Linked DNA regions of Homo sapiens. The protein of the gene in region 2 purifies or fractionates together with the protein of the main gene of each other region. This does not show direct contact. Each region holds a gene or a part of one and is shown on either strand. Other genes may lie near its edges.

Region 1 (3,822 bases), on a different chromosome or scaffold from region 2:
GCAGGTGTCATCATGGATTAGAAAGAAACTGCTTTTATGATGCATATATTGTTATGGTTTAAAATAACAACAAAGATTAACAACAGCAGTTGTAATGAGTGGCAGTCATCATCACTGTTATAATAACAATTATATGAAGGCTTTGCAGAGAAAAAGATATTTTAAGGAAAAGTAGCTGAGCTATTAGAAGAATAACATTAAGGCTGGTCACAGTGGCTCATGCCTGTAATCCCAGCACTTTGGGAGGCCAAGGCAGGTAGATTGTTTGAGGTCAGGAGTTCAAGACCAGCCTGGCCAACATAGGGAAACCCCATCTGTACTAAAAATACAAAAATTAGCCAGGCATGGTGGTGCATGCCTGTAATTCCAGCTACTTGGGAGGCTGAGACATGAGAATCACTTGAGCCAGGAGGTGGATGTTGCAGAGAGCTGAGATGGCGTGCCACTGCACTCCAGCCTGGGCAACAGAGGGAAACTCTTGTCTCAACACCACCACCACTAAAAAAAAAAAAAAAAAAAAAAAAAAAAAGGAAGAATATTAAAATCATTGTTTTAAATATAAAAGTGTATTGGTTATACTCAGTTTACTAATTTCCAAGGCATATATAAAATTAAACGGTACCTGATCGATTTTTTTCATCTTTAGAATTGATGTCAGCTCCCAAGGATAAGAGAGTCTGAATTGTACTTGTATGTCCTTCCTGAATTGAAACAAATTTGTTATCACTGTGATGAGGATAAAAGAAAACCTTTTGCAAACCAAAAAGTATCTGAGACAGGTCTCAATCAATTTAGAAGTTTATTTTGCCAAGGTTAAGGACATACCTGAGAGACAGGTCTGTGTCTCTCTCCAAAGATGATTTTGAGGGCTTCAATATTTAAAGGGGAAAAGAGGGCTGGAGTGAAGAGGAGGAGGGTATGGTCACATTACTGAATCCACATTGCAGGATAAAAGGAGCAGGGGGGGGATTAGGCAATGATACATTAAATATCTCTTTCCACTCAGTAAATTGGCACTTTACATAAGATAAGGTGAATATAAAGTAGCTACCTGTGGAAATATTTAACCCTTTATCTGTAGCTATCTGCTTAGGAACAAAAGGAAAGGCAGCTTTCTGCATGACTCAGCTTTCAGCTTAATTTTTTTTCTTTTGGCAGAGTGAGTTGGGGGTCTTACGTTTTTATTTTCCTTTCACACTTTAAACACAGACTCTAACATATATTAGGCACCTTTTCTAAAACAGTCGACTGCTAAAAGTGAATTTTCATCTTTTTTTCCCTAATTTATTCTTTTTTTTTTTTTTGTAGAGACAAGGTCTCACTATGTTGTCCAGACTGATCACAAACTTCTGGGCTCAAGGGATCCTCCTGTCTCAGCCTCCCAAAGTGTTGGGATTACAGGTGTGAGCCACTGCGCCCAGCCAAATTTTCATATCTAAAGTAAGATATTGTATCATTCTCAATTCTAATATAAATCATTAAATAAATATTTTGGTGACATTTAATTATTAGAATATAGATGATCAACTCTGTGAGCCAAATTACTGACCCAATGCAGTTAGTTTCCATCATTGTGAGCAGTACAAATCTTGTGATTTATACAGAACCCAAAACTCTAAAATTTCCCAAGCAAATATACTCTTTGTTGAAATCTTTAGGGGAGAGATAAACTAGAAAAGATCATAACCGCTCATAAATGGGAATTCCTATTACAGCTAGTAGGAATTATTATAATAAATATTTTATAAAATAAAAATATTATTTATATATATATATATATATATATATATATATATATATATATATTTGAGATGTAGTCTCACTCTGTTGCTTGGCTGGGGTGCAGTGGCATGATCTTGGCTCACTGCAACCTCCACCTCCCGGGTTCAAGCGATCCTTCTGCCTCAGCCTCCTGAGTAGCTGGGACTAGTGGCATGTGTCACCACCCCCAGCTAATTTTTTTGTATTTTTTAGTAGAGACAGGGTTTCACCATGTTGGCCAGGATGGTCTTGATTTTTTTTTTTTTTTTTTGACACAGTCTCACTCTGTCGTCCAGGCTGGAGTGCGGTGGTGCGATCTCGGCTCACTGCAAGCTCCTCCTCCCAGGTTCACACCATTCTCCTGCCTCAGTCTCCCTAGTAGCTGGGACTACAGGCACCTGCCACCATGCCCGGCTAATTTTTTGTATTTTTAGTAGAGACGGGGTTTCACCGTGTTAGCCAGGATGGTCTCGATCTCCTGACCTCACGATCCACCTGCCTCAGCCTCCCAAAGTGCTGGGATTACAGGCTTGAGCCACTGCGCCTGGCCGGTCTCGATCTCTTGACCCCGTGATCCGCCCGCCTTGGCCTCCCAAAGTGCTGGGATTACAGGAGTGAGCCACTGCGCCTGGCCTATAAAATAATTTATACACTCTTTGTCTAGCCAGTTAGTCTGCTACTATGTGATGAGACTACAGTTAAGGTTCCAGGTTCACTCTTCCTATGGGAGCACCCTGCGGCCACAGAGCACATCATGTGTATCTACCCAGCTGCTCGAAAGCAGGACATCAGGCAGGAAAATGTAATTGATCAGAAAAACAAGTAGGCCGGGCATGGTGGCTCACGCCTGTAATCCCAGCACTTTGGGAGGCCGAGGTGGGTGGATCACAAGGTCAAAAGTTCGAGACCAACCTGGCCAACGTGGTGAAACCCCGTCTCTACCAAGAATACAAAAATTAGCCAGGCATGGTGGCAGGCACCTGTAATCCAGCCTGGGCAAAAAAGCAAGACTTTATCTCAAAACAAAAACAAAAACAAACAAACAAACCAAAAAAAAAAAACAAAAAATAAGTAAAAGCATAAAGCCAATAGATAATGTTAAGGATAATATGCAAAACGCTCCTAGCATTTAAAACAGCTACTTTTCCAGTGAAAATGTTTGCTTATCTTCAATATACCCCAGAGAGCCTAGTAAATGCAATTCTCTTGCCCTGGCTGAAGAGTTCTTAACTTCTGAAATCCAGTATAAGAACAGAGAGCCAGGAATTTCATACAATGGGTATTTATAGCTTCAAATAACGTTATTCCTGAAAACAAAAACCTGTGTGTGAGGGGGAGGCACTTTATGGAGTAAAAGGCTTTTTTTTAAAGTTTTGTCTAGCAACAAATTCAAGTCAGGTTTCTATTTAAAGAGATAAAGCGCTTCAGAATCCTGACCATTTCAGAAGAATATCATGGGCAATTTCTTCCATAGAGATGGGGTCAAAGAAACCAGGCTGCAGAGCTACTGATCAAAGAAGTAAGGCAAGCCTCAGGGAAGCTCGGACAACGTTATAAGAAGTAACAAACCTTAGCTGCATAATGAAGTGCTGTGAGGTGGGTTGATGTGGCTCTCACATCTACATCGACGCCAAGTTCAGAGACCAAGAATCGGATGGCTTCGTCCTGCCCTGTGACAGCTGCCCTGTGCAGAGCCTGGGCACCCAGGCTGTCTTCTGCTGAAAGGCAAGCCTAGTGGGCAGAGGAGAGAAAGGAGCAAAGGTCAAAGATAAGAAACAGGGCAACTTAGATCTGGGCATCTGCTGGCACTTCAGCAAAACTGAGCTGTTTACGCACAACTCTCTGGGCAGAGGATATGTGGCTTTTGTCTGATTTTCAAAGGATTCTTTTTTTTTGAGACGAAGTCTCACTCTGTTGCTCAGGGTGGAGTGCAGTGGCACAATCTTGGCTCACTACAACCTCCATCTCCTTGGTTCAAGCGAGTCTCTTGCTTCAGCCTCAGGTGTGTGCCACCACACCTGGCTAATTTTTATATTTTTAGTAGAGATGGGTTTTAACATG
Region 2 (2,758 bases):
GTTTCTCCACTGGGCACCCAGCATGTAACTGCTGAATTAATGATAATTGGGTAGCTGGATGGTGGGAGGGGGCTGATCGTGACGGATCTGTGGGCAGCGGGCAAAAGAGGGCAGTAGGTGAAGGCTAGGCCATGGAAGGGGAAAGGCCCTTTGTTTTATTTTTATTTTTATTTTTTGTTGAGACGAAGTCTCGCTCTGTCGCCCAGGCTGAAGTGTAATGGCACCATCTCCACTCACTGCAACCTCTGCCTCCCAGGTTCAAGTGATTCTCCAACCTCAGCCTCCCAAGTAGCTGGGACTACAGGCTCGCCACCACACCCAGCTAATTTTTGTATTTTTAGTAGAGACGGGGTTTCACCAGGTTGACCAGGCTGGTCTCGAACTCCTGACCTCAAATGATCCACCTGCTTGGCCTCCTAAAGTGCTGAGATTACAAGTGTGGGCCACCGCACCGGGAAAAGGCCCTTTGTATGCAGAAGGCAGCCCTCCCTCTTCCATGGGATTCAAGACGCCTTTCCTTCCCTTCCTTTCCTTCCCTTCCCTTTCCTTCCTTTCCTTTCCTTCCCTTCCTTCCCACACAATGGCACTACTTCATAGGATTGGAAGAGCTCATTGAGTTTATTTAAGGAATACAAAGGGGACTGGAAGTGTCACTGGCATGTATACACACACACACACACACACACACTTACACACATGCACACATCCTAAGCAACATTGCTCCAGAGGTTGGCATCATCTGCTCGAGGTCTTCAGATTTCAGAGTCAGGTGTGAATCTTGGGGACTTGAGGAGATCCAGGCTATGCAGAAGAAACGGTGATGGGGAGGGGTCCAGCAGTCCTCCCCCTGCCCACCAGGCCCTAGGAACCCTGTTCCCTCTCCCTCCCTGAAAGCCAGCAGCCACTGCCATCCGTGCCTATCTCCCTCCCTCCCCGCTTTCCCTAGGGGCAGTCCCAGCTCACCTGGCCACCTGAGGATCACCTGGTGCTCCAGGTGCCCATGCGGCCCCCTCCTCCCCAGGCTGGGTCTGGCCCATCGGGATTATCCATGTTCTCATAAGAGTCTGCATCTGGATAGGACCAGGGAGGAGGAGAACATGGGTGGCACTGGAAGTAGGCTGGAAGGCAAAGTCAGCCCAGGGGACAGCAGGGGACAGCGGCAGAAGCACCCACCTTCCTCATGATTGGGTCCAGGCTGGCCCCGAATGGAGCGGAGCTGGGGGGCTGCATACAGGATTCCTCTCATATCCTCATAGGACTGGGACCCTGCTTGGGCGGGGGATGGAGAATTGGAGGCTAGGGCATGGGAAGTACAGCCTACGGTAAGGAGGAAGACTGAGGGGCAGAGGAAGGTGAGGAGCATTACCCATGCTGTGCTGGGAAGGGGTGATTTGGTTAGCATTGAGTTTGGGGCCCCAGTTAGCTGTAGGGTCAGGGTTAGATATGGGTTAGATTATGGCTAAGGAAGGGGTCAAGAACAGAACTGGGCTGGGCGTGGTGGCTCATGCCTGTAATCCCAGCACTTTGGGAAGCCAAGGCGGGCAGATCACTAGAGGCCAGGAGTTGGAGACCAGTCTGGCCAACATGGCGAAACCCTGTCTCTACTGAAAATACAAAAATTAGCCAGGTGTGGTGGCAAACGTCTATAATCCCAGCTACTCAGGAGGCTGAGGCATGAGAATCGCTTGAACCTAGGAGGCAGAGGTGGCAACTGCACTCCAGCCTGGGCAACAGAGGGAGACTCCGTCTCAAAAAAAAGAAAAAGAAAAAGAAGAAACTGGAGGGAGTCGGAGTCAGAGTCATGAAGAAGCTGCAGAGTAAGCTGGGGTCCAAGTTGAGGTCTGCACTGGGGCTGAGGTGAGGTGGAGATCAAGTCCAGGCTGATACTGCATTGGGATCGGTGTTGATATTCACAGTTAGGGAGGGGGTAAATATTGGGGGTCAGGATGGGGGATGGGGCTCAGGATGGGGGATGGGGCTCAGTGTTGAGGTGAGAGGAGTCACAGGATTGGGTTCGGGTTTGGGGTCAGGGTCAGGTCAAAGTTGGATCTGGTGTCAGAGCTGAGGCCAGGTCACCCAAGCTGGGCAAGGCAGTCTGATTGAAAGCATCTCTCACCCAGGGAGGTTGCTTCCCGGCTGGGGTCCCAGGCTGACCCATGAGGGCTCAGGAAGTCTGGAAAGGGAAGAGGGAGGTTACTATTCCTCCTGGCCTCCAGGTGTCCTCCGCCTCCCCCCTGGACTGTTGCCATCCTCACACACACCCATTGTCCTGGCGACCGGCTGGGTCAGCTCTTCATCCTCGTTCTCATAAGACTCAGCTGTGGCAGAAGAGAGAGAACTCCAGGGACCCCTTCTAGGAGTGTCACAGCGCTGCAATTACACCTAAGTCTCTGAGGTCCCACAAAGGCCCCAAGTTACCGTTGGAGAAGGAGTCTTCATCCTCAGGACCCAGGGGCTCATCCTCAGGGTTCTCGTAGCCGCTGCCATCTGGTGGAGAAGGAGGGGTGTCCATGGGAGTCCACAGGCCACCGCAGAGGTGGGGGGCCACGGGGGAGGGCAGCCTTACCCTGGGAGAGCTGGTCCTGCCCAAGGTTGGAGTCGTTCTCATAGAACTCGGAGTCCTCCTCACTGTCAGGTTCCTCATAGCCCTCCCCTTCCTCTTCTTCTGGGCCTGGGGGTTTGGGGATGGGGATGGGGAACCGAGTCATGCCCCCTCTCCTCCAGGGCCCAGTCCACTATTCGGGCCACAGACCGCTCC

Evidence for each region.
Region 1: the proteins of CD19 (region 2) and ANKRD16 purify together in Homo sapiens (affinity purification with mass spectrometry; one large-scale study listed by BioGRID and IntAct). This does not show direct contact.

Annotation. Positions count from the first base shown.
Region 1 is NC_000010.11:5,879,676-5,883,497, forward strand, and holds part of ANKRD16 (ankyrin repeat domain-containing protein 16), read right to left. Parts: intron 3,493-3,822; coding exon 3,331-3,492; intron 702-3,330; coding exon 623-701; intron 1-622. UniProt on the Homo sapiens protein: Required to prevent the misactivation of serine (Ser) with tRNA(Ala) by promoting the hydrolysis of Ser-mischarged tRNA(Ala), thereby playing a role in translational fidelity.
Region 2 is NC_000016.10:28,937,184-28,939,941, reverse strand, and holds the end of CD19 (B-lymphocyte antigen CD19 isoform 2 precursor), read right to left. Parts: intron 2,672-2,758; coding exon 2,567-2,671; intron 2,488-2,566; coding exon 2,419-2,487; intron 2,319-2,418; coding exon 2,262-2,318; intron 2,174-2,261; coding exon 2,117-2,173; intron 1,270-2,116; coding exon of another isoform or gene 1,267-1,269; coding exon 1,174-1,266; intron 1,071-1,173; coding exon 979-1,070; 3' UTR 964-978; intron 802-963; 3' UTR 600-801; downstream 1-599. UniProt on the Homo sapiens protein: Functions as a coreceptor for the B-cell antigen receptor complex (BCR) on B-lymphocytes. Decreases the threshold for activation of downstream signaling pathways and for triggering B-cell responses to antigens.